Linked DNA regions of Homo sapiens: region 2 is linked to region 1. Evidence: fine-mapped expression QTL. A gene starts in region 1. The other region holds a variant in brackets. All regions are shown on one strand. Distances are from middle to middle.

Evidence for each region.
Region 2: its variant is fine-mapped to the expression of CA13 in lung (GTEx, PIP 0.96).

Annotation. Positions count from the first base shown.
Region 1 is chr8:85,236,635-85,253,293 of GRCh38, forward strand. CA13 (carbonic anhydrase 13) reads left to right here and starts at 8,824. Exons shown (of 7, transcript NM_198584.3): 1 at 8,824-9,231; 2 at 14,106-14,303. The coding sequence starts at 9,195. It overlaps LOC105375936 (a long non-coding RNA gene), which reads right to left and starts at 6,851. Exons shown (of 3, transcript XR_929126.3): 1 at 6,711-6,851. LOC124901969 (a long non-coding RNA gene) reads left to right here. Exons shown (of 4, transcript XR_007060985.1): 4 at 1,085-1,236. RefSeq lists a silencer at 9,079-9,158 and an enhancer at 9,519-9,628.
Region 2 is chr8:86,169,563-86,186,221 of GRCh38, forward strand. It overlaps LOC105375623 (a long non-coding RNA gene), which reads left to right and starts at 10,906. Exons shown (of 5, transcript NR_188044.1): 1 at 10,906-11,057. The variant T/C (reference allele first, on the strand shown) is at 9,067.

The sequences.
Region 1 (16,659 bases):
CTTTTGAGTCTCAAATTCCTCTTTGGGAGATTGCATTATGTAAGACTAACCTTAGGATAACCTTAGGAATAAGAAAATAAAGAAATCGAAACCCCATATAGTATCAGCTCCATAAAGTCAACAATCTCCACAAGCTATCAAGTGATAAGACATTCTTGTGGGTAGTACATCCTGGTTGTACAAATCACAGGACTCAATGAATAAAGGAAGCTGGGCACAAATTGGAGAGCATCTTGGACTTGGGACTCTGCAGACTGGTGCTATGTCCCTGACTGTGTGGCTTGCCTCTCTAGGGGACTGGGGAACCTTGCTCATCTAAGTTTCGTGCTTGGTAAAAATCAGATGATAATAGCTACTTTGGTTCACATTTAGAGTTTTTAAAAATAATACCTGGGGGCTGGGTGCGGTGGCTCATGCCTGTAATCCCAGCACTTTGGGAGGCAGACGCAGGCAGATTGCCTGAGGTCAGGAGTTTGAGACCAGCCTGGCCAACATGGTGAAACCCCATCTCTGCTAAAAATACAAAAATTAGCCGGGCATGGTGGCACATGCCTGTAATTCCAGCTATTCGGGAGGCTGAGGCAGGAGAATTGCTTGAGCCCAGGAGACGGAGGTTGCAGTGAGCCAAGAGGGTACACTCCAGCACTCCAGCCTGGCCAACAGAGCAAGACTCTGTCTCAATAAATAAATAAATAAATAAATAAAAAGAATACCTGGAAAAATGTGCATCTCAGGGAGAGTCTGTATACATGCCCTAATAAAACAACATGAACTTATACTCTGATATTTCCTTAATATGTTACTGTGTTAATTAAATATTTTTATGGCTAGATTTGTAATTTACAAGTGCTGCTTTATTATGACACACAGTGTCATTGAAGAGGAGAGCGGACTTCAGCACATTTTGTTCCTTAAGGGAGCTTAAATTGGATCTAACCAGTTCAAAAGTGAAGTGAAAAAAAAACACACATCTCCACTGACCAAAAAAAGAGTGAGGTGGAGATGATGACCATATCGTGGGTCAGCATTTCTGGGTTATTTGGTTAGTGTTAGTCTTTTTGTTTTTGTTTTTTGTTTGAGACAGGGTCTCACTCTGTCACCCGGGCTGAAGTGCAGTGGCATGATCACAGCTCACTGCAACCTCCGTCTCCTGGGCTCAAGCAATTCACTGCAACCTCCACCTCCCAGACTCAAGTGATTCTTCTACCTCAGCCTCCCAAGTAGCTGGGACCACAGGTGGGTGCCACCATACTTGGCTAATATATATATATATTTTTTTGGCAGAGACAGGGTCTCACTGTGTTGCCCAGGCTGGTCTTGGACTCTTGGGTTCAAGCAATCCTCCTGCCTTAGCCTCTCAAAGTGCTGGGATTACAGGTTGTGCCCAACCAGTGTTAGTCTTCTTTTACTTGATTACACTTAATGGTTGTAAGCCTGGAGACAGAGGCTCCTTGTTAAAGAGAAACCACACAAATAGTTATGAAAGTTATTTAGTAAGTTAATGGATTCATTGATTTGAAGAAGTAAAAAGATGTTTGTTTCCTCAGTTGTTTTTTTTTTTTTGAAAAAATTTCAAACCTACGGAAAAAAAGTAAGAATATTATCATGAGCTCCCAAATATCCTCCAGCTAGATTAATCAATTATTTACTGAGACATTTGGAAGTCAGTTTCAGACATCAAGATATTCAGCCCTAGCACTTTAGGAGGCCGAAGCAGGTGGATCACCTAAGGTCAGGTGTTCAAGACCATCCTGACCAATATGGTGAAACCTGTCTCTACTAAAAATAGAAAAATTAGCGGGGCGTGGTGGTGTGTGCCTGTAGTCCAGCTACTCAGGAGGCTGAGACAGGAGAATTGCTTGAACCAGGGAGGAGGAGGTTGCAGTGAGCCGAGATTGCGCCACTGCATTCCAGCCTGGGCAACAGAGCAAGACTCAGTCTCAAAAAAAAAAAAAAAAAAAAAAAAAGTACTTCAGCCCTGTAGCTTTAGTGTTGAACTCTTAAATCATTCTCAGTACCATTATCACTCCTGAGAGAATTAGTATCAATTAATAATATCACATAGATGCTGTCCATATTTAAATTTCTCCAAATGTCTCCCAAATATTTATTACAGCTTTTATGTAACCTAGAATCTAATTAAGTATCATACATTGCATTTAGCTGTTACATATCTTTTGTCTCTTTTAATCCTAGACTGTGTGAATATCCTATTCCCCAATATCCTTTCATCCAGAAGTTTTAGTACCCATTACTGATCCTTGCCTGAATCAGAGATTATACAGAGATTATATAGGCCTTGCAAAAATGGTGGTTTTAAAATTTTATCATTTCATCTGTATTTGCTAGTGGACATAAAGAAGATCTCTCATTCTCTCTCAGCATCACTATGCACTGATGGATATTTGGTGGGTGGGGAGTTATAATCTATTACTATCATTATTTCTTTTGATGGTCAAATTATCCCAAATTTGTCAGCAGTTCCTCCTTCAAGCTACCTTATTTGTGCGTATCTGTGTATGTGTGTGTGTGTGAATGTGTCTGTGTGTGTGAATGTGTCTGTGTGTGTGTGTGTGTTTGAATGCTTTCTAGCTTTCTGGCATAAGAAATATGTTCTAGGCTCATCTTAGTCTTTCTCTGCTCTAGACCTGAAACTGTTATGTAGGTAGTCAAGCAGACCTAAGCAGGGCAGGAGAGCCCCTACTGCCCCCCAACCAAGAATGTCAGACAACCATCAGGTGATGGTCAGGCGGTTATCAAACTGCTTCTCTAAAATAATAATTGGTTGCAGCTGGCATCAGGAAAAGGCAGTCTCCCAAGAGATAGAAACACTTAAAGTTGGTGATCAGCAGCTTCCCAGTAGGATCTCAGGAGTTGGTTGAGTGGTCTCAAGCATGCACACTAAGAGGCAAATGGCAGAGTTTAACTGGTATATGACCTTCCTTTAGGAACACTCAACTGGTAAGGAAAAAACCCCTCAAGTGAGCATGTGCACAATTTTGGTAAACACACTGTGCATACAGCCCCTTTCAAGTGTTGGCAGTCCACTATGCCTGCGGACAGCCCACCCCAAAGAAGAATCAGGGAAGAAGGATTGCAAGACCCCAGAAGCATGCCAATGTATAAGACCCCAAGTCAAAGGTCAAACAGTGCACTTCAATCTCTCAAGTTGCTGGCTTGGCCCTCTTCCAGGTGTACTTTACTTCCTTTTGTTCCCTCTAAACTTGTTAGTGAACTTTCATTCCTGCTCTAAAACTTGCCTAGGTCTTTCACTCTGCCCTATGCCCCTTGGTCAAATTCTTTCTTCTGAGGAGGCAAGAATTGAGGTTGTTGTAGACCTGTACAGGTTCGCAGCTGCTAACAAAACTAGTCACTTCTCCAAATAGCTCTGGTTCCTTCGAAGGGGGAATGGTGTTTAGGAAACAAGATCTGGGTGCTAGTGTTTAAATCACCTTTGCAAAAATCATAATAGTGAGAAAATTGTAACAGTGAAAGAGGTCTTACCTAACCAACTTCATCTTGCCTTTCACCTCCAAACTGCCCTTGATCATTTCTGGGTGTGAACCAAGCTAACTTTGGGAGAAATTTAGTTTATAATTTCAATGGTAATAACCCTTCCCAAAGCCATTTATTTGTTCTGTAGCTCACGACATTTTCAACTTCCCCAATTACTCTCATAAATAACATCACTATTGTAGAACCTGAGATTGACCTTTTGAGATGTTTTTTCAGGCTTTTGCATGTATGATGACCAGATGGCCCCACCCAGACCAGCAACTCCTCTGTGGCCCCCACCCAAAAGTGGACTCAGCTCATGAGGACCATTTTCTACACCACCGTAATTGCATTTCCAACCACTCAGCATCACCCATTCCCTAGCCCCCTGCCTGCCAAACTATTCTTGAAAAACCCTAACCTTGGAATGTGGTGGGAGGCTGATTTGTGTAATAATAAAACTTTGAGTAGGGCATGGTGGCTGACACCTGTAATTTCAGCACTTTGGGAGGAGGCTAAGGCAAGAGGATTGTTTGAGCCCAGGAGTTTGACTGGGCTCATAGTTTGCCTGGGCAACACAGTGAGACCCTGTCTCTCCCCACTACAAAAAAAAAAGTTAGCCAGGCATGGTGGCACATGCCTGCAATCCCAGCTACGTGGGAGGCTGCGGCAGGAGGATGCTTGAGCCTGAGAGGTGGAGGCTGCAGTGAGCTGTGATTGCACCACTCCACTCCAGCCTAGGTGACAGAATGAGACCTTGTCTCAAAAAACCAACCAAACAAAAAAGCTCCAGTCACTCATTTAGCTGGCTCTATTTCAATTCCCCTGTCTTCATCAATAATTAGTTCTGCCTAGGAAATGGGCAAGATGAACCCATTGGGCAGTTTCAGTGTCTCATAGCAAGGGGTAGATTCAGATTTGTAGAGCCTGAAGCTACTACAATTTTGGGACTTTTTTTTTTTAAAGAAAAGGAATGTAAAGTTACAAATATAAAATTAGTATATGGCTTTAGAAGTGGTCCCTCAGTGAAGGGCTATATATTTTAAGGTTTATTAGCTTCATTATTATTGGGATATTATTGTTCTTGGGATCTTTCAGTGAAGAGAATGTTCAAATGCAACACCACGGGTTTATTTCTTAGCTTCTGTCATTTCCTATTTTGTATAAACCAGAATGAAAATCATGCTTCCAGAGATTATCAATATATTTGTTCATTTGCTCTATCTTACTATTTTCACACAAGTGGTTTCCAGCCAGGCACAATGGCTCATGCCTGTAAATCCCAGCACTTTGGGAGACCGAAGTTGGTGGATCACTTGTCAGGAGTTCCAGACCAGCCAGGCCAACATGGTTAAACCCCGTCTCCACTAAAAGCACAAAATTGCCAGGGCATGGGGGTGGGCACCTATAATCCCAGCTACTTGGGAGGCTGAGGCAGGAGAATCGCTTGAATCCGGGAGGTGGAGGTTGCAGTGAGCCGAGATTGCACCACTGCACTCCAGCCTGGGTGGCAGAGCAAAACAACATCTCAAAACAAACAAACAAACCAATAAAAAATGGTTTCAGAAGCATAACACCAATATCCTACCAAAAACAAACCTACTAGTAATGTTCAAGATTTTCTTTCATTTCTTCTTAATATGTTATATGTCCTACTAAGGATATATAGCCAAAGTACTATAGTCGAACGCTATTTAACTTTTTCTTTATGGTTACATTATCAATTCAATATACAATTAATTTTAATTGTTTCTGTTTGAATTCAATTTCAGGGTTTGCTTTTTTATTCTCTTTAATTTAAATTTATTTTTTAAAAATGCAGAACAATGTTAAAAGAAAAATCTTAGACAAATTAAATTGAACAGAGTTTAATTGTGCAAAGAACAATTTGCAAATTGGGCAATGTCTCCAATCAGAATAGGTTCAGAGAGACTCTGGCCCTTCTGTGTGGTTAGATTGATGGACAGAGAAAGGAAAGTGATGGACAGAAAATGGAAGTCAGGTACAGAAACAGCTGGTTTGGTTACAGCTCAAAGTTTACCTCAGTTGAACAGGGTTTGAACAGTTGGCTGCCTTTGATTGGCCAACATTCAGTGATTGGCACAAGAGTGGGCTACAGTCTATTTACACATCTAGTTAGGTTAGAGTTCACTATATACACAGAAAACTTTAAGCTGGACTAAAATATGTAAGGAGGCAGCTTTAGGCTAAAGTTAATTTACGACATTTATGATTAAAAGTCAAAAAGATACACTGAGAAGTTTCACTTATCCCTCTCCCTCTGTTATTGGAAAGAGGTCCCAGTCCAGACCCCAAGAGAGGGTTCTTGAATCTCATGCAAGAAAGAATTTGGGTTGAGTCCACAGAGTAAAGTAAAGGCAGGTTTATTAGAGAAGTAAAGAAAAAAAGGGGCCGGTGCGGTGGCTCACGCCTGTAATCCCAGCATTTTGGGAGGCCGAGGTGGGCAGATCACGAGGTCAGGAGTTCGAGACCAGCCTGACCAACATGGTGAAATCCCGTCTCTTCTAAAAATACAAAAATTAGCCGGGCGTGGTGGTGGGCGCCTATAGTCCCGGCTACTCAGGAAGCTGAGGCAGAAAAATCACTTGAACCTAGGAGGTGGAGGTTGCAGTGAGCTGAGATCGTGCCACTGCTCTCCAGCCTGGGCGACAGAGAGAGACTCCATCTCAAAAAAAAAAGAAACAAAAGAATGGCTACTCCATAGACAGAGTTGCCCTAAGGGCAACTGGTTGTCTACTTTTTATGGTTATTTCTTGATTACATGCTAAACAAGGGGTGGATTATTCATGAGTTTTCTGGGAAAAGGGTGGGAATTTCCTAGAACTGAGGTCTCCTCCCACTTTTAGATCATATAGGGTAATTTCCAAATGTTGTCATGGTATTTGTAAACTGTCCTGGGGCTGGTGGGAGTGTCTTTTAGCATGTGAATGCATTATAATTAGCATATAATAAGATTTGAATGGAGTTGCTGTGGTTCCATTGCCTCTGACACTTCCACCCCATTCACACTCATCCTCTATAAGGAACTATTTTTATTAATTTATGGCTTTTTCTCTACTTTTTTGGTAAAAATCTGAAAATATGTGTGCAGTTTCTTATTTCTATTTTTTTCTTAAACATGCAGTCTATTATATACACTCTTTTGCTCCTTTGCTTCCCCCGCTCCCGCAACCTCAATACATCCCAGGACTCACTTTATATCTGCTCTGCTCATGGAGATCTTCATTCTTTTTATAAATGGACAATAGTCCATTGAATGGCAGCTGGGCGCAGTGGCTCACATCTGTAATCCCAGCACTTTGGGAGGCCGAGGCGGGTGGATCACCTGAGGTCAGAAGTTGGAGACCAGCCTGGCCAACATGGTGAAACCCCATCTCTACTAAAAATACAAAAATTAGCCACTAGTAATGCATGCTTGTAATCCCAGCTACTCTGGAGGCTGAGGCAGGAGAATTGCTTGAACCTGGGAGGTGGAGGTTGCAGTGAGCCGAGATCGCACCATTGCACTCCAGCGTGGGCAACAAGAGCGAAATTCCATCTGAAAAAAATATATATATATATAAGTCCATTGAATGATGGATGCTCTACAGATGACCTAACTAGTTTCCTATGAAAGGTAATTTGATTGTTGCCAATACTTAGGTTGCTGTTTTAGAAAATTATATAGACTGCGCTATGAATTTAAACAAGAAGGAACTTGAAACCACTACTGCAAAATTATAATTGAAACAGTGAAAGAGATTGGACCTAACCAACTCTATCTTATTTCTAACTTCTAAGCTGTCCTTACTCATTCTTAGGCATAGGCTGAACTAACTTTGAGGAGGAACATAGTTTATAGTTTAGAACAAAGACAATAACAGCCCTTTCCCAAAACAAACCTTCTTTCCTGGGGACTGGACCGCCTTTGCAGGACTAACAAATTAGCCAAAAGATTAGAAATTATGGTTTAGGAGTCATACAGCTGGAGGCTGTATGATTCTGACCCTCCCCAAATTGCTCCTGGGAATAACATCACTATTGTAAAGCCTAAGACCAGTGCTTCAGATATGTTGCAGACCCTGCACTGGATGGATCAGCAGGCACCACTCAGCTCGATAAACTGGCTCATCTGATCCCATGGCCCCCACCCAGGAACTGACTTAATGCAAGACAGCTTTGACTCCCTATGATTTCACCTCTGACCCAAACAACCAGGTCTCCCGACTTACTGGCTCTCCTCCACCCACCAAATTGTCCTTAAAAACTTTGATCCCCAATGCTTGCGGAGACTGATTTGTGTAATAATAAAACTCCAGTCCTCTGCACAGCCGGCTCTACGTGAATTTCCCTTTATGAATTGCAATTCCCCTGTCTTGATAAATCAGCTGTGTCTTGACAGTGGGCAAGGTAAACCCATTGGGTGGTTACAAACTGTGTACCCAAGCAATAAAAGTAACAATTTGGGAAGTATTTGAGACCCACCAACCAAAATTTCTTTAACAATTTTGGTCTATTCAGTCATTCATCCATTCATGTAACCACTATTATTGGGTGTCAAGAACTGATACTTACTTAGAACGTTAAGAGCATTATTCATCTTGACATACCAAATCATCCGAGTTACTGAAAATTGGTTTACTAGGTTCCTTACAAAGAGGTTGCTTGGATTTATAAAATATGAGGCAGTTGACCCGAGACAAGGACGTAGAAAGTGGTTCATGTACCCAATTTTTATTTTTCACTTTGAACCCAGAACATTCACGACTCCAGGCCAGAAATTCAAGACTCTGCAGCTAGTTCTGACTCCAGTCCTAGGGTAACAAGCCCACCAAGAATCCAGGGCAGATGTCCTGAAAACCCTTCTTGCGGGGTCAGGAGGGCAGCAGAATTTTGGGACCAAATCTCAACAACTGGTTTTGGTTTCCTCACTCACCAAGCCACAAGCCTGCAGAGTGAGAAGAGGTAAGGAAAGGATGAATGGGCAATGGAGCCAGCCCAGGACCGGGAGCTGGTCCTCTCTAACAGCGACCCCGCCCGCTTTAGCTGAGCGACCCGGGGCAGGTTACATAGTGTCTCTAACTTAAGCCACGTGTTTCTCGAGGAAATGCTGAGAGGATCTAATGGGAAAACGTGGGTACACGTCTTAGCTAAGACCCTCGCCCACGATAAGCCCTTAATAAGTAGTTATTTTTCAGTGGTGGTGATTACCATCGTCATTATTGTTTTGTATTTGTAATCATCACTGCCACGACCATCACCGACCTCTTTTACGCCTCCACCGGGATCCCCACCTCCCAGCCTGGCAGTTCCAGGCTCTGGTGACTCATTCACTTCCTGGAAGTCCTCTAGGCAACACTTTCCTCTCCCGAGTGACGACTCCTCAGAAGGCAGGAGATCCCCCCCGGAAACCTTTCTCTCTCCGTCTCTCCCTCTAACTCAAATCTCTCATTCCCGAGTCCAAACTAAGAGAGACTCGCGCCCCAGGAGTCAGCCAGCGGCGCGGGCGCCTTCCCCGCACGCCTCTGCCGTCTGGAGGACGCAGGCGGGAGCGCCCCGGACCGGGTTCACGGTCTCGCACTCCTGCCGCCGGCGCCCCGCGGTCCCGCCCTAGCAGGCTCCTTCCCGGGCCCCTCCCCGCTCCCTCCTCTTTCTCGCTGCTCAGTCACATCTTTCTCTTCCTTCCACCCCGAGGGACCATGTCGAGGCTCAGCTGGGGATACCGCGAGCACAACGGTGAGCGCCTTTTCCTGATCCAAGGGGGGGTTTGTGCGGGGGACGAGAGGACTAGCGCGACGCCCCGGCGCTCGCTGACCACACACTGGGCTCGCACATTGAGAAACTTTTTCGGTTCCTCTTTAAACTAAGCAGCACTCCTGGGAGCCCAGTGCGAGAAGCGGAGAGCAGTCTTGTCAGGGTAGACGGGTTGTTGGTGGTGGATGTGAGCGTTGGTGTGTGTTATCTCTGTCAGGATTCCCCAAACTCCCAAGTGTTCATACGTGTGAGTTCACCTTCATCTGAAAAGCCAAGGACTTTGCCTAGTAACAGCCACGTATCAATTACAGGCTTGGAGATCAGAAGTCTGATGACACACTTCAGTGAAATAAGGACAAGTTCGCTTTCAGTCTTTTAAGCTCACTATTCACTTAGGAGAAACAAATCATAGAAAATCTTTAAAAATATATTTAGGAAATCTTAACTTGCATTGTGACACTGAAGATTAAGTTGGCTTCGTGGCAAACAAAATACTGCATGTTTCCTAATAGTTGTTACTGTAAATATTCCCACAGCAATTTGCAGTTGGCTGACTACTACTGGGGACTTTAGTAAGGGTTCAGGTTCTCGCTGGGAAATTAAGTTACATTGTGGGTTACTTCTCCACTCTTCTTCTCCACGCTCATCCTTGCAGGGTGAGCAAAGGATTACTGAAATTATAATTCATTGATAGAAATGTATTAATAGGATAAATAATAATGACATACACTTTTCTTCTTGTATATCACACATTATCAAAAGTAAAACATTTTTTCTTGTTCCTACGTTAAACTGAACTGATTGTTTAAATAATAATTATTTGAAATAATCGCAGTGACACCAAAAAGCCTTATAGTGAATAACTGTCAAAATTAAGGCTTAGTTTAGCCATTCCTCAATGTGCATATATTTCAAAACATCATGTTGTACACATAAATATATACAATTTTTGTCAATTTAAGAAGTAAATACATAATAAAGAAAAAAATTAAGGCTGTGAATAATAATGCTTTCCTTCTATTAGCATGTACATGATTAAACAGTATAGAATGGTCAAATTTTATAGAAAGTTTAATTTCACAAACTAACAGAAAAATTCTATTTCTAATTGTAGCCTGTTTAATTTCTAATTGTAGCCTGTTTTTAAACATGCTAGTTTAAAAATGGCAGCAGGTGAAATTTATAACTTTAATAATAAAAGGTGTATAGTCAGATTTCTTCTTGATTAAGGCCATAATTATAATCTTACATTTTGCTAATTTCCAGTGAATGTTTAGGGGGAAAATATGACAAATCTTTTTTCATTTCCCTCTCTGCTGAAGTCGTTTTTATTGGAGTTATTTAATAGTCATTGAATCCCAACTGCGCCTTTATGGTAGTTAGGAAGAAGAAGGGTATTTCAATCAATCAATCAATGGATATTGATTACTCTTTAGTAGGTTAGAAATTATTCACCTGAATGAAGCTTATTTCAGCAATTTTAAAAATTCATCTTAGCAAAGCCATTAATAAGGAGTGATTTTGTATTTCTGTTAGGAATTGTTCTGTTAGGAATTAGCCATTCCTTTCTTTTAGATGCGATCTCTCTCTGAAGACCACATCCTTACTTAAAGGTGTGGTCTTCAGAGAAAGATTGGGAAAATCCTATTGGAAATGTATTATATACTAACTAGGCAAGTTTTTTGTTTGTTTGTTTGTTGTTTTTGAGATGAGTCTTGCTCTGTTGCCCAGGCTGGAGTGCAGTGGCACTATCTTGGCTCACTGCCATCTCCCTCTCCTGGGTTCAAGCGATTCTCCAGCCTCAGCCCCACCAAGTAGCTGGGATTATAGGCATGAGCCACCATGCCTGGCTAATTTTTGTATTTTTAGTAGAGACAAGGTTTCGTCATGTTGGCCAGGCTGGTCTAGAACTCCAGACCTCAAGTGATCTGCCTGCCTTGGCCTCCCAAAGTACTGGAATTACAGGCATGAGCCACAGCTCTGGGCCTAACTAGGCAAGTTTTTTGTTTTTTTTTTTTTTTCTGTTTAAACATTGGTAAACCAGTGACTGAGCAGATAAAAGGAAACTTAAGCTGGGAATAGCAACACTGATAAAATAAAACATCAAGACTTGAAGCCCTGAAAGGGTACTGCCTTCACAAATAACTTAGGATTCTTCCCCTAACCTTTGACTACTTTATTAGTTTAGTTTAGCGAATGTGACATCACTGAAAAGTGTATATCACTGTAGGTATTTAAAAGTTCCTAAATCAGTTGAGCAACCACCACATATCTCTAATTAAGAATTATGCTGGCTGGGCACGGTGGCTCATGCCTGTAATCCCAGCACTTTGGGAGGCCAAGGTGGGTGGATCACCTGAGATCGGGAGTTCAAGACCAGACTGACCAACATGGAGAAATCTCGTTTCTACTAAAAATACAAAATTAGCTGGGCGTGGTGGTGCGTGCCTGTAATCCCAGCTACTTGGGAGGCTGAGGCAGGAGAATTGCTTGAACCTGGGAGGCAGAGGTTGCAGTGAGCGGAGATCACGCCATTGCACTCCGGCCTGGGCAACAAGAGTGAAACTCTGTCTCAAAAAAAAAAAAAAAAAGAAAAAGAATTATGGTGGCTTGCACCTGTAATCCTAGCTACTCAAAAGACTGAGATGGGAGGATTGCCTGAGGCCAGGAGTTCCAGACTAGCCTGCAGGGTCATGGGGGGGACAAGGAGAAGGAGGAGAGGAGGAAATTTTTTTTGGAAAAATTGAAAAAGGGGACCTCTTTAAGAGGCAGGGTACTGAACTGACTATGGTAGTTAGTAGATAATATTGGGAATGTGATACAAACAATTATTACTTTTATTTTATTTTGGTTTGACTTCTTTTTAAAATAGTTCTGTTTATAAATGACTGGAAATAGGAGAGCAAAGCAATTAGGAGAAGAAAGCAACTCTATTGATTGGAAGAATGTCACCTGCATATTGTAACACATGCATTGCGCATTTGAAATTGAATTTTCGTTAGGTTAACTCTTACTTGGTGGCAGTGAAATAGAAGGCTTTTTCTGAATTAAGGGGGAAAAAAGTCTAGGTTATATATAGAAAAAGTACTCAGAAAGATGGTGAAAGTATTGAATAAAAAAGGCTTTTTCTGTAATACATTCTAAGCAAGGACTTCTGATGCTCAAGTGGCTTTGAAGTCCAGTTTGTCAGATGACATCTTTTAAGCTGAGTGTATAGTTATATATTTATGCTATGACTTTTTGTGCCTGAAGCATATATGAAAGAATGTATGTATGTGTGAGTTCTCTTTTGCAAAAATGAGGCATAGTAAGCAGTATCAGATTTAGAGTTTGGGCCAGGCGTGGTGGCTCATGCCTGTAATCCCAACACTTCAGGAAGCTGAGACATGCGGATCACTTGAGCCCATGAGTTTGAGACCAGCCTGTAGTGAGACTTTCAACAAAAAAAAGTTTTTTATAAAAGTAGCTGGGTGTGGTGGTGCACACCTGTACTCTTAGCTACTTGGGAGGCTGAGGTGGAAGGATTGTTTGAGTTTGGGAAGTTGAGGCTGCAGTGAGCTGAGATTACACCTCTGCATTCCAGCCTGGGTAACAGAGCAAGACCCTGTCTCAAAAAAAAAAAAAAAAGATTTAGAATTTTATGCTTTAAAGTTTGTTGATGATTGTGATATATTGCATTTCTTTAAATATTACTCTAAATTTTATCATTTTAAAATGTTTTTGGTTGTCGTTAGTAACAGGTTTAATTAATTGTCATGCTATGATGTTTTAATTAGTACTTGATTTTTAGTGAAAGATTGGTTAGCAAAGTAGGTGGGTAAACCTTAGTCAGTAGCCCAGTGTAGGTGGTGATAGCTGTATAAATTTCAGGAATAGTAGAGAGAATAAGAACCTATAACCTATAAAGTGACTCACATCTGTAGAATGACATGGAACTTACGTGAAACTACAGCTTTGCTGCTGATTTTGAGAGGCAAGACTTTATAGAGTCTTCCAAAGAAGTGAAGAGGATTGAAAAGGGAACTGTTAGCTGATTGGCTCGTTTCAATTTCCCTAACATGTCTGATTTGTGAACTTGATACGATTTTGACGTTTTTGAGTAGAGGACCAGGATGATACCTTTCTCTTGTGTTGAAATTCAAATGTAACATTGGCAAAATAACCATAGAAGAACCTTCTGAAATGAAGAAAGAGAGAAATAAATTACAATCTGACTCTACTGCAGATAATCAACAATATTACGTTTCCTGACGTGGTGCAGCCATTTTATTTGGATTATCCTAGGTGAAAAATTTGTGTGTTTCCTTGGTATGCCTGTTGCACATCACAGGTAATTGAGTGGAGGCCTGAGTGACACTAGACGATAGCATTGAGTGATAGAAGGAAGAATAAAGAAGTAAGCACAGCATCTTTAAGAATGACACCCTTTCTTTGCTTCATGGCTTTCTCAGCTTTTTTGACTCTTCCAATCTGCAAACTTGAACTCTGGAGCAATAGCTCATTTTTGGAGCTGAGACTGAATGTCATTGTTTTCAATGATGAGTTGTATTATTGTTTTTAGTTTGGTAGAAGGTTACCTTTGGAGAGTATTTTATAAAATTTACAGACTCTTGTCTACAAGGGTTACTTTAATTCTGAACATGACTTAAGGCACACCAAGAGTTTCCCACATCTATAATAAAAACAACTAATCTTGTAAAAAAAAACAATTAGATGCCAAGGTCCTGAGGACGAGAATCTCATTTTATTAATCTTTGCGTTTTCTTCAATTTCAAGCACAGTGTGTTATACTCAATGTATGTTTGTTGAAAGAAAGAACTTATTTAATCCTTTTCTTTTGGTCCTATATATTTAAGGTCCTATTCACTGGAAGGAATTTTTCCCTATTGCTGATGGTGATCAGCAATCTCCAATTGAGATTAAAACCAAAGAAGTGAAATATGACTCTTCCCTCCGACCACTTAGTATCAAGTATGACCCAAGCTCAGCTAAAATCATCAGCAACAGCGGCCATTCCTTCAATGTTGACTTTGATGACACAGAGAACAAATCAGGTTGGCTTTTCTTTTTTTGTGTGTGTGGTGGTGGATGAAGGGTTTGAATGATTAGACTATACTCTTTTTTTTTTTTTTTTTTTGAGACAGAGTCTCGCTCTGTCGCCAGGCTGAAGTGTAGTGGCGCGATCTTGGCTTATTGCAACCTCCGCCTCCTAAGTTCAAGAGATTCTCCTGCCTCAGCCTCCCGAGTAACTGGGATTACAGGCGCACGCCACTATACCCAGCTACTTTTTTTGTATTTTTAGTAGAGACAGGGTTTCACCATGTTGGCCAGGATGGTCTTGATCTCCTGACCTCGTGATCCGCCTGCCTCGGCCTCCCAAAGTGCTGGGATTACAGGCGTGAGCCACCGCACCCAGAATACACTCTCTAATCTTTCATGTTTTGTTTTTGCTAGACCTGGAATTTGTCAAATTGAAGCATATTTTTCTTCGTGTGAATTAAGATATCTTGTTATATATTTGAACCTTCAGATAATCTTACCTTAAAATAATAAAGAGTATTTGGAAAAGGATATGTTGCATGATAATTTAAAATTGACCTTAGCTTGTTATTATAACTTCACTTAGCATTTACCATTATAAAAATATTAAAGTTTAATAGTTTTTATAGATATTTCATGATTTGTTTCTGCAAAGTTTTAGCCGTAATTATTTTAGCATTATTTGCAAACCTATAATGCCATTTAAGTACCTGCTTTAATAGAAAAAGTTTAGTTTAAAAAAAACTTATTCTCTTATTTTAATTGCCAAAGTAATATCCACTCATAGTAAATGAAACAATATGGAAACATATAACAAATATTAATGTCTCTTTCTTCCCACAGTCTCTCCTGAAGTAACTAATGTTATTTCTTCCATAATATTTCGGTGCTTAGTTATGTATACATACATGTGTATCATCCTTGTTTTGCATTTTCTTATTAAAAATACATTTGGAATAATGCTATATAACTCTGAATTTTTTTCTTGTTTAAAAATATTTTATAGACATCTTTCCAGATTAAAATATATCTTGTTTAAAAAGCTAAACTGCAGCCGGGTGTGGTGGCTCACATGTATAATCCCAGCACTTTGGGAGGCTGAGGTGGGAGGATTGCTTATGTCTAGGAGTTCAAGACCAGCTTGGGCAACATAGTGAGAACTTATCTCTACAAAAAATAAAAAATTAATCAGGCATGGTGGGGTGTGCCTTTACTCCCAGCTACTCTGGAGGCTGAGGCAGGAGGATTGCTTGACTTCAGGAGGTCAAGGCTGCAATGAGCCATGATAGTGCCACTGTACTCAGCCTGGGTGACAGAGCAAGATCCTGTCTCAAAAGATAAAAATAAAAGTAAAATAATTTTAAAAGTTGAATTGTATTAGCTATGCTTGTATCGTAATTTATGTACCATTCTCCTAACAATGGACATTGAAGGGAGGGAAAGTAGAAGTTTAATTTTTTTAAAAAAATAAATATATGAAACTTTTTTACTGTATATTCCCTATTAGTACTTTTTTCTAGAACACGTAATCATTTCGTTTAATGATTAGTTCTTGGGATAGTGTCTTTCACACCATGAATAAATAATGGACTTATAGATTATTTGTTAATTTATTAAATAAGTGATGAAAAAACATTTTCTTGAAGTGAATGTTTAATCCTTCTTCAGACTATCTACTGCCCAAGCAGAGATTCTGCCCAAGGTATCAAGTTTAAATGTAAGATGAGATAAAATATTAGAGAGAATCATATTTGGAAACACTTTTTAGGGCCTCTGACAGATTGTTTTTATTTTTAATCTAAGATCAGGATGATGCTGTATTTGCTCTATTAATGAAAAAATATAGTTAATTTTTAAAAATCCTTAATTGAAAGAAAGTTTTTACTTATTAATTGAGCCCAGATTTAGATTAGTAGTAATATCTTGTATTTATGTAAAGCCTTATTGTTAGCAAAAATTATAAGCCCAACCACATTTCTTCTTCATATTTGTCAAATTCATAAAAGTAGTAAGTTTTTTTTTCTTTTCTTTTTTTTTTTGAGACAGAGTTTCACTCTTGTTGCCCAGGCTGGAGTGCAATGGCACAGTCTCGGCTCACCGCAACCTCTGCCTTCCGGGTTCAAGCGATTCTCCTGCCTCCGCCTCCCAAGTAGCTGGGATTACAGGCATGTGCCACCATGCCTGGCTAATTTTGTATTTTTAGTAGAGACAGGGTTTCTCCATGTTAATCAGGCTGGTTTCGAACTCCCGACCTCAGGTGATCCGCCCGCCTCGGCCTCCCAAAGTGCTGGGATTACAGGCGTGAGCCACTGCGCCCAGCCTTTTTTTCTTATTTATTTATTTATTTATTTATTTTTTTGAGACAAGGTC
Region 2 (16,659 bases), 930 kb after region 1:
CCTGAATGGTATTGCCTAGGTTTTCTTCTAGGGTTTTTATGGTTTTAGGTCTAACATGTAAGTCTTTCATCCATCTTGAATTAATTTTTGTATGAGGTGTAAGGAAGGGATCCAGTTTCCGCTTTCTGCATATGGCTAGCCAGTTTTCCCAGCACCATTTATTAAATAAGAAATCCTTTCCCCATTTCTTGTTTTTGTCAGGTTTGTCAAAGATCAGATGGTTGTAGATGTGCGCTATTATTTCTGAGGCCTCTGTTCTGTTCCATTGGCCTAGATCTCTGTTTTGGTACCAGTACCATGCTGTTTTGGTTACTATAGCCTTGTAGTATATTTTGAAGTCAGGTAGCATGATGCCTCCAGCTTTGTTCTTTTTGCTTAGGATTGTCTTGGCAATGTGGGCTATTTTCTAATTTGGTTCCATATGAACTTTAAAGCAGTTTTTTCCAATTCTGTGAAGAAACTCATGGTAGCTTGATGGGGATGGCATCGAATCTATAAATTACCTTGGGCAGTATGGCCATTTTCACAATATTGATTTTTCCTATCCATGAGCATGGAATGTTCTTCAATTTGTTTGTGTCCTCTTTTACTGTATTGAGCAGTGTCTGTAGTTCACCTTGAAGAGGTCCTTCACATCCCTTGTAAGTTGGATTCCTAGGTATTTTATTCTCTTTGAAGCAATTGTGAATGGGAGTTCACTCATGATTTGGCTCCCTGATTGTCTGTTATTGGTGTATAGGAATGCTTGTGATTTTTCCACATTGATTTTGTATCTAGAGACTTTGCTGAGCTTGCTTATCAGCTTAAGGAGATTTTGGGCTGAGACGATGGGGTTTTCTAAATATACAATAATGTCATCTGCAAACAGGGACACTTTGACTTCCTCTCTTCCTAATTGAATACCCTTTATTTCTTTCTCTTGCCTGATTGCACTGGCCAGAACTTCCAACACTATGTTGAATAGGAGTGGTGAGAGAGGGCATTCCTCTCTTGTGCAGTTTTCAAAGGGAATGCTTCCAGTTTTTGCCTATTCAGTATTATATTGGCTATGGGTTTGTCATAAATAGCTCTTATAGTTTTGAGATATGTTCCATCAATACCTAGTTTATTGAGAGTTTTTAGCAAGAAGGGCCATTGAATTTTGTTGAAGGACTTTTCTGCATCTACTGAGATAATCATGTGGTTTTTGTCAGTTCTGTTTATGTGGTGGATTATGTTTATTGATTTGTGTATGTTGAACCAGGCTTGCATCTCAGGGAGGAAGCCAACTCGATCATGGTGGATAACCTTTTTGATGTGCTGCAGGATTCAGTTTGCCAGTATTTTATTGAGGATTTTCGCATCGATGTTCATCACGGATATTGGTCTAAAATTCTCTTTTTTTGTTGTGTCTTTGCCAGGCTTTGGTATCAGGATGATGCTGACCTCATAAAATGAGTTGGGGAAGATTGCCTCTTTTTCTATTGATTGGAATAGTTTCAGAAGGAATGGTACCAGCTCCTCTTTATACCTCTGGTAGAATTCGGCTGTGAATCCATCTGGTCCTGGACTTTTTTTGGTTGGTAGGCTATTAATTATTGCCTCAGTTTCAGAGCCTATTATTGGTCTATTCACAGATTCAACTTTTTCCTGGTTTAGTCTTGGGAGGGTGTATGTGTTGAGGAATTTATCCATTTCTTCTGGATTTTCTAGTTTATTTGTGTAGAGGTGTTTATAATATTCTCTGATTGTAGTTTTTGTATTTATGTGGGATCAGTGGTAATATCCCTTTTATCATTTTTATTGCATCTATTTTGATTCTTCTCTCTTTTATTCTTTATTAGTCTTGCTAGCAGTCTATCAATTTTGTTGATCTTTTCAAAAAACCAGCTCCTGGATTCATTGATTTTTTTGAAGGGGTTTGTGTCTCTGTCTCCTTCAGTTCTGCTCTAATCTTGGTTATTTCTTGCCTTCTGCTAGCTTTTGAATGTGTTTGCTCTTGCTTCTCTAGTTCTTTTAATTGTGATGTGAGGGTGTCAATCTTAGATCTTTCCTGCTTTCTCTTGTGGGCATTTACTGCTATAAATTTCCCCGTACACACTACTTTAAATGTGTCCCAGAGCTTGTGGTACATTGTGTCTTTGTTCTCATTGGTTTCAAAGAACATCTTTATTTCTGCCTTCATTTCATTATGTACCCAGTAGTCATTCAGGAGCAGGTTGGTCAGTTTCCATGTAGTTGTGTGGTTTTAAATGAGTTTCTTAATCCTGAGTTCTAATTTGGTTGCACTGTGGTCTGAGAGACAGTTTGTTATAATTTCTGTTATTTTACATTTGCTGAGGAGTGCTTTACTTCCAATTATGTGGTCAGTTTTGGAATAAGTGCTATGTGGTGCTGAGAAGAATATATATTCTGTTGATTTGGGGTGGAGAGTTCTGTAGATGTCTATTAGGTCTGCTTGGTGCACAGCTGAGTTCAATTCCTGGATATCCTTGTCAACCTTCTGTCTTGATCTGTCTAATGTTGACAGTGGGGTGTTCAAGTCTTCCATTATTATTGTGTGGGAGTCTAAGTCTCTTTGTCGGTTTCTAAGGACTTGCTTTATGAATCTGGGTGCTCCTGTATTGGGTGCATATATATTTAGGATAGTTAACACTTCTTGTTGAATTGATCCCTTTACCATTATGTAGTGGCCTTCTTTATCTCTTTTGATCTTTGTTGGTTTAAAGTCTGTTTTATCAGAGACTAGGATTGCAACCCCTGCTTTTTTTTGCTTTCCATTTGCTTGGTAGATCTTCCTCCATCCCTTTATTTTGAGCCTATATATGTCTCTGCATGTGAGATGGGTCTCCTGAATACAGCACACTGATGGGTCTTGACTCTTTATCCAATTTGCCAGTCTGTGTCTTTTAATTGGGGCATTTAGCCCATTTACATTTAAGGTTAATATTGTTATGTGTGAATTTGATCCTCTCATTATGACGTTAGCTGGTTATTTTGGCCATTAATTGATGCAGTTTCTTCCTAGCATCGATGGTCTTTACAATTTGGCATGTTTTTGCAGTGGCTGGTACCGGTTGTTCCTTTCCATGTTTAGTGCTTCCTTCAGGAGCTCTTGTAAGGCAGGCCTGGTGGTGACAAAATCTCTCAGCATTTCCTTGTCTGTAAGGGATTTTATTTCTCCTTCACTTATCAAGCTTAGTTTGGCTGGATATGTAATTCTGGGTTGAAAATTCTTTTCTTTAAGAATGTTGACTATTGGCCCCCACTGTCTTCTGGCTTGTAGAGTTTCTGCTGAGAGATCTGCTGTTAGTCTGATGGGCTTCTGTTTGTGGGTAACTCGACCTTTCTCTTTGGCTGCCCTTAACATTTTCTCCTTCATTTCAACCTTGGTGAATCTGAAAATTATGTGTCTTGGAGTTGCTCTTCTCAAGGAGTATCTTTGTGGTGTTCTCTGTATTTCCTGAATTTGAATGTTGGCCTGCCTTGCTAGGTTAGGGAAGTTCTCCTGGATAATATCCTGCAGAGTGTTTTTCCAACTTGGTTCCTTTCTCCCCGTCACTTTCAGGTATGCCAATCAAATACAAATTTGGTCTTTTCACATAGTCACATATTTCTTGGAGGCTTTGTTCATTTCTTTTTTAACTTTTTCTGTAAACTTCTCTTGCTTTATTTCATTGATTTGATCTTCAGTCACTGATAACTCTTCTTCCACTTGATCGAATTGGCTTTTGAAGCTTATGCATGCGCTGCGTAGTTCTCATGCCATAGTTTTCAGCTCCATCAGGTCATTTAAGGTCTTCTCTATACCGTTTATTCTAGTTAGCCATTCATCTAATCTTTTTTCATGTTTTTTAGCTTCCTTGCAATGGGTTCGAACATCCCCCTTTAGCTCAGAGAAGTTTGTTATTTCTGACCTTCTGAAGCCTACTTCTATCAGCTAGTCAAAGTCATTCTGCATCCAGCTTTGTTCTGTTGCTGGCGAGGGGCTGTGATCCTTCAGAGGAGAAGAGGTGCTCTGATTTTTAGAATTTTCAGCTTTTCTGCTCTGGTTTCTCCCCATCTTTGTGGTTTTATCTACCTTTGGTCAGATGGGGTTTTGGTGTGGATGTCCTTTTTGTTGATGTTGATGGTATTCTTTTCTGTTTGTTAGTTTTCCTTCTAACAGTCAGGTCCCTCAGCAGATATTGCTGCCTGATCCTTCCTCTGGAAGCTTGTTACCAGAGGGGCACCTCCCTGTATGAGGTGTCAGTCAGCCCCTACTGGGAAGTGTCTCCCAGTTAGGCTACACGGGGGTCAGGGACCCACTTGAGGAGGCAGTCTGTCCATTCTCTGAGCTCAAACACCATGCTGAAAGAACCACTGTTCTCTTCAGAGCTGTCAGGCAAGGACGTTTACGTCTGCAGAAGTTTCTGCTGCCTTTTGTTCAGCTATGCCCTGTTCCCAGAGGTGGAGTCTACAGAGGCAGCAGGCCTGGCTGAGCTGCAGTGGGCTCCACCCAGTTCGAGGTTCCCCAGCTGCTTTGTTTACCTACTCAAGCCTCAGCAATGGCGAATGCCCCTCCCCCTGCCAGGCTGCTGCCTCACAGGTTGATCTCAGACTACTGCACTAGCAGTGAGCAAGGCTCTGTGGGCGTGGGACCCACTGAGCCAGGCATGGGATATAATCTCCTGGTATGCCATTTGCTAAGACAGTTGGAAAAGTGCAGTACTTGGGCAGGAGAGTCCCGTTTTTCCAGGTACCATCTGTCACAGCATCCCTTGGCTAGGAAAGGGAAATCCCCCCACCCCTTCTGCTTCCCAGGTGAGGCGACGCACCGCCCTGCTTCGGCTTGCCCTTCATGGGCTGCACCAACTGTCCAACTAGTCCCAATGAAATGAACCAGGTACCTCAGTTGGAAATGCAGAAATCACCTGTCTTCTAGTGTCGATCACACTGGGAGCTGCAGACTAGAGCTGTTCCTATTTGGCCATCTTGGAAGAATCTCTTCATTATCTTTTATGCCTTCACTAATTCACAGCATGATGCTTGCTCAAAATAAAGCAAACATGCTTTTCAAATAAAATAAAACATTTGGTATTAGATATCAAAGTACCTGTTTATAGATGCATGACTAAAATAATTTTACTTTATTCCCAAATTACACCTGGCTGCAGATGAATTCTAAGCCATGAGGCCTGTCACCTTCCACAGCAACCTGCACTACACTGTATGGGTCTCTTTTGTACAGTGATTTCTTCTGTTACCATCTCAAGGCCTCTCTTCCCCAAGACCCTAGAGCAGTTTATGTGCTTGTCTTGCAATTCTAGTTACTCCTCCTAGCCCTCCTTTCTGTTTCCCCTTCCAAGTCTTTCATGGTAAGGTCTGCTGCAACAACTGAGCCCTTAGTCGCATCTATTTTGTTCTTGGTTCCTGGGACTCATTGCTGTTCCTCTTCCTTCAGTATCCTCCCCTTGCCCCTGCCTCAATTCAGTCTTATAATAAAGTCTTCTTGAAATTTAAATACGTTTCTGCTTTCTTTTTTTTTTTTTTCCTTAAACAGCTCCATCGCCCAGGCACCCAGGCTGGAGTACAGTGGCATGATCTCGGCTCACTGCAACCTCGGCCTCCCGCATTCAAGCAATTCCTCTCCTGCCTCAGCCTCCTGAGTAGCTGGGATTACAGGCATGCACCACCATGCCTGGCTAGTTTTTGTATATATATATTTTTTTAGTAGAGACAAGGTTTCACCATGTTGACCAGGATGGCCTTGAACTCCTGGCTTCAAGTGATCAGCCTGCCTCAGCCCCACAAAGCGCTGGGATTACAGGCATAAGCCACCCCACCCAGCTGCTTTCTTCATAACTAGAGGCCACTACACAGAATTTACCAAACTCTTCTTGATAGTTCAGGATGCCCATCCTTCCAATAATAATACAGAGTTGCCGCTGGGGCTACTAAGCTAAATTGGGCTATTTGTGCTTTTTCTTTCTTTCTTTTATTTCTTCACCAAGACTCTTCCTTACACCAATATTTGTCCTTCTTTGAAGTGACTCCAGACAAGTACACATTTTGTAGTTTTATTCTTGCTTTTTCTATGATGTTCTTTCCCCTCTTTCACTGTCAGTGTAATAGAAGTCACTTGTCTCTATCTTCTGATTTGCTGCTTATTTTTTGGGAGCCATAAAACTAAATTTTTATGTTAGAATTAAGTCTAACATAAGAGAAAATACAGATCAGATCAGCTTTAGCACCTGGACTTTGAGATGCTGCTTTGAATTCTTGGTAAGTTTTTTAGCTTGATGGATTATTTTCTATTTCCTGAGAGCTGAGACTACTTTGTTAAATAACCACTGGGTACAAGAGAGTTTTTATAATATTATCACTATTGTTGACAGGAAGTAGTGGAGCTGAATCAGCAGGCTGATGTGTCCTCTAAATCAGTATTAAATAATGTGTTGTGATGATATGTACAGACCTCGGGTACTGGAGATGCCAGTTGCCAAACTGCATTACAGAACCAAGCCTTAAATTCCTTCTGATTATTAAGTATTCCACTGAGTGTGTGTGTGATAACAAAACAGTAGAGGATATTTTCTTCCCAGTGTTCTGCCAAATCTCAGCTTGAATTTAACACTTTGGCTGAGCACATTTCCCCTTTCTGTTTCATCTGGATAAATTTTGCTTTTTTGGCTTCCTGTCATAGAAGGTTATATTTACACAAAGGCCATATCTTATAACATCTCATCTTTGGATCGAAGGAATTTCACAGTGTACCGTCAAGCTAATTAGGAAGTAAAGCTGCTTAGTGTTAGCTGCTATGGAAACATCAGATACACATACATCAGACTATGTCATTTTAATTGGCATTGAGGAGAAGTGGACCTAACATCTAGGAACAATTGAAGCCAAAATTCTATGCTAACTTAACATGGCATTTTAAATTTGAAGTGAAAAGACTGTTTCTAGAAGGTGAAACATGTTCTTTTATGAAAAAACATGAAAAAAGGACACCTGAAATGAAAACAATATTTAAATTGAGTTCATGTGGTTTTATGGAAAAGTACCATGAATTTGCCTACCTTTGTTTCTGCTAAATCTAACCTCTTAGAAAGCTATAAAATCTGTATGCTCAAAGAGCTTCGCTGTGTGCATTTATGAGAACCTAGTCATTAACCCGCAGAATAGTGAATCAGCCAATAGTGTTTGCAGTCCTTCAGTATTTTTATAATTGGTGTTTTGGTTAAGATTCTTTCATTTATAAGAAAAGAAACTGACTTTAGCTCATCTCAGTGAAATAAGGGAGTGTGTGAAAAGGGCTGCTCACAAAATCAAAGGAAGAGCAGTGTACATAGTCTTTGGAGAGGACAGAAATGGGAGCAGATCCAGGGAAATCATCAGGGCTGGCTGCTCACAAATCCTCTCTGTAAGACACTCACATTGGATGACTCAGCTCTCAGAAACTTGCATTTCTGACAAACCTCAAGTCATTTTCAAATGCCTGTGGGGGGAATATCCTGTTGGCCCAGGTGGACTTAGAATTTCTGCTTTTGGATTAATAGCCAATGCAAAGGATACGGGGGAAGCATAAAAGGAAGAGTGATACTGACAGGGCCACTCAGAGAATCATGTACTGAGTAGCAGCCTGATTTGGGAATGCTATTTTTGATGAGCTCATAATCAGTTTCAAGATGAATTTAGTAATAAACAGAACTTTAGTTTTTCCCATATTTTTATCTTTATAAATTAATAATTTTAACACTTTATTAAATACCTACAGTGTACCAGGAAGAAGACGACACTCCAGATATAAAAAAATAAGCTCTAGCTCAAGTCAAAAATGCAGATGTGTAACTAAAGTGATTCGCAACGTAGCAGATGTAATGCAGGCTTGCACCTATTTAGGTAGTTATTAGAAGCATTGAAGAAAAGCATCAATCTACATAGACCTGATGATATCAGGGAAAACTTTATAGAGGAAAGAATCTTTGGGTTGAGTTTCAAAGGATAAGTGGGAATTTGCTATGAAACGAGAGGAGAGAAAAACTGTAGAAAAACTGTATTTCAAAGCATCCCGCATCTACAAAGAGCATGGCTCAGGTGGGAGCTGCAAATGGTTCAGTGTTTTTGGAAGTTTGGAATCTGAAGACGTTACTGAAAATGAGTCTGGAGAGAGAAGCAGTACCTGAAATTTCTGTTATGCACATTAAGACATTGGACAATGGAGAGTCATTAAAAGATTTTTTATTTGGAAAAGTATCATGATTGGAGTTGGTTTTAGGAAGGCAACTTTGGCCAGGCATAGTGGTTCATGTCTATAATCCAGCACTTTAGGAGGCTGAAGCATGTGGATCTCTTGAGCCTAGGAGTTTGAGACCAGCCTGGGCAAGGTGGCAAAATCTTGTCTACAAAGCATAAAAATTATCCATGCATTGTGGTGCATGCCTGTAATCCCAGCTACTCTGGCAGCTGAAGTGGGAAGATCACCTGAACCCAGGGGATTGAATCTGAAGTGAGCCATGATCTCACTATTGCACTCCAGTCTGGGCAACAGAATGAGACCCTGACAAAAGAAAAAAAAATATAGACAACTTTGGCAGCAATGTGGAAAAGAATTTAAATAAGAGAAGACCAGTATAAGACTGCTGCAATAGACCATTTAGGGAGGTCGAGAGAAATTCAGTCTTCTTTCTCAGGCAGCAGTTAAGATAGGGGGGTCACTAACTGATGTAAGCAACTTAAGGAATGTTAAAAAGTTAAAATCATTCAGAGGCTAAGGCATACTTGGGTCTGCAGTCGGAAGAGGAGGGAAAGACTAGAAACTTGTATTTCTGAGTCAACAACATAATATAGCAATTTTAAGTGTGAGTATTGATGAGGTTTCACATATAAAATATTAGAATATTCAGAGATCACCAGACAGAACCCTGGAGACAAGGGATGGATCAAGGAAAATAAGTCTGAGTTAGAAAATCTAAAATAGTAGGAAGAAGGCCAGTAGGGAGCAGAGTTACAGAGAGTAAACAGAGGAAAGGGAAGGGAGTTTCAAGAAAAAAGTATGTATCTGTTAGGATTATACTTAGTTGCAGGTTACAGTCCTTTCTCACA[T/C]AGACTAGATGTATAGTTAGGCAGCCTACACTAGTGTGGGGCCTCTATTATCATCCAGTTCTTTCTACATTCTACTCTGCATCTTAATCGTCCAAGATGGTTGCTCAAGATTCATCCCAGAAGGAAAAAGGACAGGCCGAAGAAGAGTGCATCACTACCTTGAAAGACACTTACTCTACATTTTATACAACATTTCTAATTCCAATCCATTGGCAGAATTTAGCCACATGGCCATATCTGACTTCAAAGGAGGCTGGGAAAAATAAATCTTATTCTAGACAGCCATAATTCCAGGTGAGCAATGGGTTCCATTTAATAAGAAAAAAGGGGAAAAAGGATCCTGGGAAGCAATTGGAAGCCTTTGTCACATAGGAGTTAGTGAACAATGACATAAATTGAAGAGAGTTGTTGTAAGAAAAAGACTGAAGAGTGTTTATTGCACTAACTAGTGACAATCTTGGCAAAAGTAGTTTCTTGGAGTAGTGAGAATGTAGGTCAAACTGCAGTAGATGAAGAATTGACTTTAAGATAAAGAAAATGAATATGAGTTGAAAATAAGCTGGGCTGCGAAAAGGAAGGTGAGAAGGAAGACTGTAGTTAGCTCAGCACCTTCATGAGAATAGAGCTCATGGATAAGACTTTGATGGGCCATGTGCAAACTGAAGCAGAGGAAACCAGTCATCATGAAGTTGAGAATGGAGCAACCTGCTTCTCCTGGAAACTTCTTCCAATGTCCTCCCAAAGCAGTTCCACCAACATGGGATAGAAGAATGAGAGATATCATATTTCTTGTTTTTGTTTTTGTTTTGAGATGGAGTCTTGCTCTGTTGCCCAGGCTGAAGTGAAGTGGCACAATCTCAGCTCACTGCAACCTCTGCCTCCCAGGTTCAAGCAATTCTCCTATCTCAGCCTCCTGAGTAGCTGGGACTACAGGTGCCTGCCATCACGCTGGGATAATGTTTGTATTTTTTAGTAGAGAGAGACGGGGTTTTACCATGTTGGCCAGGCTGGTCTCGAGCTCCTGATCTCAAGTGATCCACCTGCCTCACCCTCCCAAAGGGCTGGGATTACAGGCGTGAGCCACTGCGCCCAGTCAAGATATATCATGTTTCTTATATGATCCATTTCCTTGTCAGAATTAATTGGTAGTTAATCTAATCCAAATTGGTCTAAAGAATCCATACCAGTGAACCACCTGAATGAATGAGGAGTGGCTAATGTACTCAAATGAGCCAGTTTCCCCACCATGGGATTTTTAGATTTTATACTGGAGAAATACCAAATCAATTTCATTTCAGTGATTGAAACTATAAACTGTAAAATTCGTTGGCAATCATGTTTTCCATCATGTTTTGAAAAGCAACCTGCAATGAGGAAGACAAATAAAAATATAGAGAAATGCGAAGATGAAAGACTAACAGAAAGAAAAATGAGTGCTAGCACCATTTCGATCCTTACTTACTTCCGATTGTTCCTGAGACCCAGAAACATTATTTCTCTCAAGATCTGAGATAATCAGTATTTCTATAAGAAAATTTCTCTTTCTGCTTAAATAAATTGTAGCTGAGTTTCTGTCATTTACCATTAAAAATGTCTGATTAAAACTGAGAGGAACATGTTTATATGTTTAGAAAAAAGTCAGAAGAAAGGTTGAAGATACAAAAAGACTGAGAATTTGAGAGTATGTATATCCAAGATAGCAATCTTGTTTCTGCTTCCCTCTGAGGTAACAGTCCCTGCCCCAAATCACTATTCTCTTTATGACCTCAATCCCTAGACATAGCTGTTTGAATCATGAGAGGGCACCTGCCTTCCTTCTACATCCTAGATGAACTGGTCTGAGCACGTTCTTCTGTGAGGTTTATAATTGAGATGTGTGGACACTAAGCTCATAAAGAATCAGGGCTAAGACTATGATGGGTCATATGCAAGCTGATGCTGAGGAAGCCCACCATAAGAACGGAGAATGGAGCATTCTGCAGAGAGCAGAGGTGACTGGGCCTCTAAAGGGGTGGGGGTGATCGAGGGAGTAGACACTTTTTGTTTTTTTAATAGAGACAGGGTCTCACTCTGTCACCTAGGCTGGAGTACAGTGGTATGGTATCATAGCTCACTGCAGCCTTGAGCTCCTAGGATCAAGTGATCCTCCCATCTGAGCCTCCTAAGTAGCTAGGACCACAGGCATGTACCATCATGCCCAGATAACTTATTTTATTTTATTTTTGTTTTAGAGACACGGTTTTGCTATGTTGCCCAGGCTAGTCTTGAACTCCTGGCCTTAAATGATCCTCCTGCCTTGGCCTCCCAAAACACTAGGATTACAGGTGTGAGGCCATCATGCCTGGCTCCTGGGAATAGATGCCTTGATTCATGCCAATCTGTACATTGTTCAAGGGTAGGAGCTTTGGAATCACTTAAATCTATCTCTGAGCCCTGGCTCCCCTATCAACTTGTGTGACCTTGAACAAGTTACTTAACCTCTTTAAAACTCATTTTTCTCATCTGTAAAATGAAGCTAATAGTAGTATCGTTCTCACAGGATTGTTAGAATCAAAAGAAAGATGCATGTGAAGTGCAGAGCAGTGTCTCACAGTAAACTCACAGTTAATGCTAATAACATAGCATAATCATATCCAATGCTACATGTAATAATTATAATCAAATACAATGACATAAAAGGTAAGCTCTTTCCAGTTCCAATTCTCATTAATCTCAGATACTGTCTTCATTTCTCAATGAAATCTGCGTATCCTTGAAATATCTTTTCTTTCTATTTGCTCTGGTTAGACTAAGAATTTGTTCTTGACAAACGCAGTGAGAATGTTTGCATCCCAATCCCCAGGGTGAGCTTGGACAAGTTACTTCCTTACCCGACATTCAGCAACATTGCCCCCTCCATCCGTCCTGAGCGCTCTCTTCTCTTGGCTTCTGTGACCAAGAGAAGCCAAGGAGTCTCCTGGCTTTCCTCCTACCCACTGGCCATGGTGTCCCTCTTATCCTGGCTCAGCCTCTTCTGCTTGTCTTTAAATGCTGCATATTCTCAATAATCATTCCTAAGTGTCCTCATTTTTCTCACTTTGTATTTTCTCCCTAGGCTATAATATCGGTGCATGGTATCAATTATCATGTAATTTAAACTTTGACTCCCAAAAGGTTATCTTCAGCCCAAACCTCTCCTAATCTCCAAATCTGCATATCTCACTACCCACTCAACATTTTACCTGGAGATCTGAACGAAAGATTCATCAAAATCTACAAATTCAAAACTGATCTCATGATCTTTTCCTCTAAAACTATTTCTCCCGACCCAAGGGTTTTCTATCTTGATACCACCACCCATCCACTCTTCCAGTTTTGCAAGCCAGAGACCTGTAGACATCATCCTCTGCCTTGCGTCTTAGTCCATCAAGACTTGTTGATTTTACCATCAAATTGTTTCTTGACTTTGTCAACTGCTTATTCTCTATTGCCATCACTCTTATTCTAGCCATCATCATCTTTCTCTTGGACTCTCACACTGTACTCAGAAATTGTCTCATTGCATCCCATTTTAATCCATGCTATAGTCAAAGTTTTATTTTAAAAATAAAAATATGTTCAATGCAATAGCTTTCCATTGCTCTTTAAGATAATAATCAAACTCCTTATGGCATACAAGGATCCTCTGTGATCTAGCCTCTCGGGAAGAAAAGGAGTGCGTTGGATCTGGCTCATACTGGCTGGCACCTGCATGCAGATGGTTAAATATTTTGGAAATTTGCAAGCTGATTGCTGAATCATTGGATGTGGGGAGAGTATGTATCCTGTGGAAACTGGCAAATGCTACAAAGGGTTTTCCCCACACCTCCCCTCTCTCCTCCATGCAGGAGAACCAGTTTAACAGCACTCGGTTCTCTCTCCAGGCTTAACCGTTCTTTCATTCCGTACTTTAACCACATTGACCAACTTTAAGTTTCTCTAACATGTCATAGTTCCTTATATTTAAGAACTATCAAATATATTGGCTGCCTTTCCCAGGAAACTATAAACTCCAAGAAGTCAGTGACTCTCTGTTTGCCCAACATTAAATCCTCAGTGCTTTTCAGTGCCTGGCGCATAGTTGGTGCTAGGTAAGTACCTATTGAATAAGTGCCTGCTCTCACATGGATTTTACAGATCTCAAAACAATGTGATGTCTGTGATAATGCCCTAAAAATGATGAAATAATACATAGATATGATTATGGATATTAAAATGTTTCCTGAACAAATAGATTTTTTCTATTTTTATTAGTTTTTTCTATTTTCCACTTAAGATGGTATCACAATTTATTTTCTAAATGATGAAATGTTTGTTTCTCTAAAGCAGTCATAATTGAATCATGATATTAACATATATTTAACTTGAATTAGATATGACTTTTGTTATAATAAAATTATGTTCCCTAGCAAGAAGACTCAGGCAAAAAAAAATGTTTTTAATTATGTCAGAGTAAATGAGGGTGATATTTTCAATGGAGCCTTTAAAAATTCTTCTTTCCTATTTTAAAATTAGCTTTCCAGAAATGCACACTCTATTCTTTATATGCTGATACAGCTAAAACATAATAGTAAACTATTTTCTCACGAAGAGATTTGTTTAAATTATCAGAACTCTCTTGGAAAACACTTTCAGTAACTTATTTAACTTGAATTCTAATGAAGTGAAAATTGCATCATCATCATAATTATTAAGATTATATCCACTGGCAAAATTTTCCATTTATATGGAAAAAATATGTTCATTGTTATATTGGTATTTTTAACCATTCATACATTTTTCATTCTTCTCTCTTCTCCTCCAGTGAATATTTTTTTGGTCTCTACGGTACTCAAGGCAAATTATATTTAGTTTAACATGTGAACTAATTAGTAAAGGCAATACTTTTTGCAAATATCATATTTTACTTGGTATATCTATTTCTCCCACATTATTGCATCTTAATTTGGGGATACTAAAATTCTCCACCATGGGATAATATAGGCTAAGAGTTGCTACTATTTTCCATAATTAGTGGTTGTTGTTTTTTAATTTTTATACAAGGTGTGATTTAGTAGATATGTTTTAGATTGACTTTGAGGATCTAGTCAATCTCCCATGGTTTCAAGTCCAAATTATCTCCATATTAGGCATAACAGAAACAAAGATGCTACATAGAATAATCAGACTAAGTGGTCAACTCTCAGTTCATGAGTTGGCCTCTCCCACTGGTTTTCTTATTCTTGTATCTGGATGTCTTCCAGTGATGCAATGTTCCTTGCTTGTAAAATTGCACATTTATGCATCACCTTATTAAATTTGCTTGTGTGTCTATCATTCTGAAAGTGCTTCTTGTTCTTTAGTGAAGCATTGTTCTAGTTATGTGTTGTCTTTTCCTGTCAGTACACACTATTTGTTGTAATTAGTCTCTGGCTTCAAGTCTATACAAAATGAGCAGACATTTGCACAGTCTTTCAGTTGCATCTGATCATTGTGGACAATAAGCCAATGATTTAGACAAAAAATAACCTCATTCTTTTCCTTTATAAAAGAAATAGTTTGTACTTTTTGCTTGGATCTTATTTGTACTTCATCTGTCCTCATGTTTGTCTAGATAGATTTACCTTATATAAACATTTTTCTCTTTTATTTATTTATTTATTTTGAGACAGGGTCTCACTCTGTCACCCAGGCTGGAGTGCAGTGGCACAATCTCGGCTCACTGAAACCTCTGCCTCCTGGGTTCAAGCAATCCTCCTGCCTTAGCCTCCCGAGTAGCTGGGATTACAGGCATGCACCACCATGCCCAGCTAATTTTTGTGTTTTCAGTAGAGACGGGGTTTCACCATGTTGTCCAGGCTGGTCTCGAACTCCTGATCTCAGGTGATTCACTTGCCTCAGCCTCCCAAACTTCTGGGATTACAGGTGTGAGCCACTGTGCCTGGCCTCCACCTTTTATTTTTAAACCAAGCATTATAATATAAATACCAGTAACGTTGTTCTGTTCAAAATTTAGTATTTTTCCTTTTTATGTGACTTACAATTTGTACATCTTATTAGACTTTCTCCCTCAAGCTCATGCACTACACCAGGCAGAGAAATTCATGAAGATATGCATTTAGGTAATGGCCCTCAAAAAACAAAACTGGCTTAATGTAAAATCGTTGTTGTTGTTTTTTTTTTCTTTAATCTTCCCCAACTTAAATCTTTTAATTTAAAAGTAAACTTTACTGTCGAAAACGCAAACTTGGGGATGGCAGAAAGATCACACACAAGGCTGCCACTTCACACCTGGAGGGTTGCACGGCAGCCAGGCAGAGGCGCTCCTCACTTCCCAGTTGGTGCAGCAGCTGGGCAGAGGTGCTCCTCACAATGATTTTTTTTTTTTAATTATCATTAGGTACATGGTTCATGTTTGTAATCCCAGCACTTTGGGAAACTGAGGCAGGAGTATCACTTGAGCCAAGGATTTCAAGAACAGCCTGGGAAACACGACAAGACCTTGTCTTCACAAAAATTAAAAAATTAGCCAGGCATGATGACATGCACCTGTAGTCCTAGATGCTCAGGAGGCTGAGGGGAGAGGATTGCTTGAACCTAGGAGGTTGAGGCTTCAGAGAGCCATGATTGCACCACTGTACTCCAGCCTGGGTGATAGAGTGAGACCCTCATCTCTAAAAAAATTTAAAAATTAATAAATAAATAATACATTTTCAAATACTATGTCCAACACACCTCTGGCATTTACTCCACTCTTGCTTTCTCCAATATTCCCTAAGCCCCTCAGATTAGGCCAAATCTCTTCATTAAATGCTCTTATAATACAATTTTCTTTTCTTCTTTTTTGAGACGGAGTCTCACCCTGTCACACAGGTTAGAGTGCAGTGGCGCGATCTTGACTCACTGCAACCTCCACCTCCCAGGTTCATGTGATTCTCCTGCCTCAGCCTCCTGAGTAGCTGAGATTACAGGTGTGCACCACCATACCCGGCTACATTTTGTATCTTTAGTAGAGATGGGATTTCATCATGTTGGCCAGGCTGGTCTTGAACTCCTGGCCTCAAGCAGTCCACCCGCCTCAGCCTCCTAAAGTGTGGGCTCATGTCAGCATGAGCCACCGAACCTGGCCCTTACATATGTAACTTTTAACTCAGTTTGTAATTATATATTTATTTTGAGATCAGTTGATTACTAAGTTTCCCTGTAGACTGTAAGCTCAAGGAAGGCAAAGCTTGCATTAATTAAGGTACAGGCTAAAGTGCTTTAACAAATAGAACTCCAAATAATGTCACTTATACAAGCTGCACATATATAATTTTTTCATATAACCTTCTAGCTGATGGGATTGCTCTGCTGCCCTCAATATGTAGCTTCCATCTCTCAGTCAAGCTGCCAAGTTCTTGCTACCTCTTTGTCAATAAGAAGAGGAAAAGGATGAGAGGTGCATAAGTTGAATACTTTAAAAGCTGAGCTCTCTAAAGTAGCAAACACTGCTTCCACTCATTACATTAGCCACAACTTGGTCACATGAGTACACCTAATAGCAAAAGAACCTGCACACTGTAGGCTTTAGCTGGCAATTATCAATACTAGGGA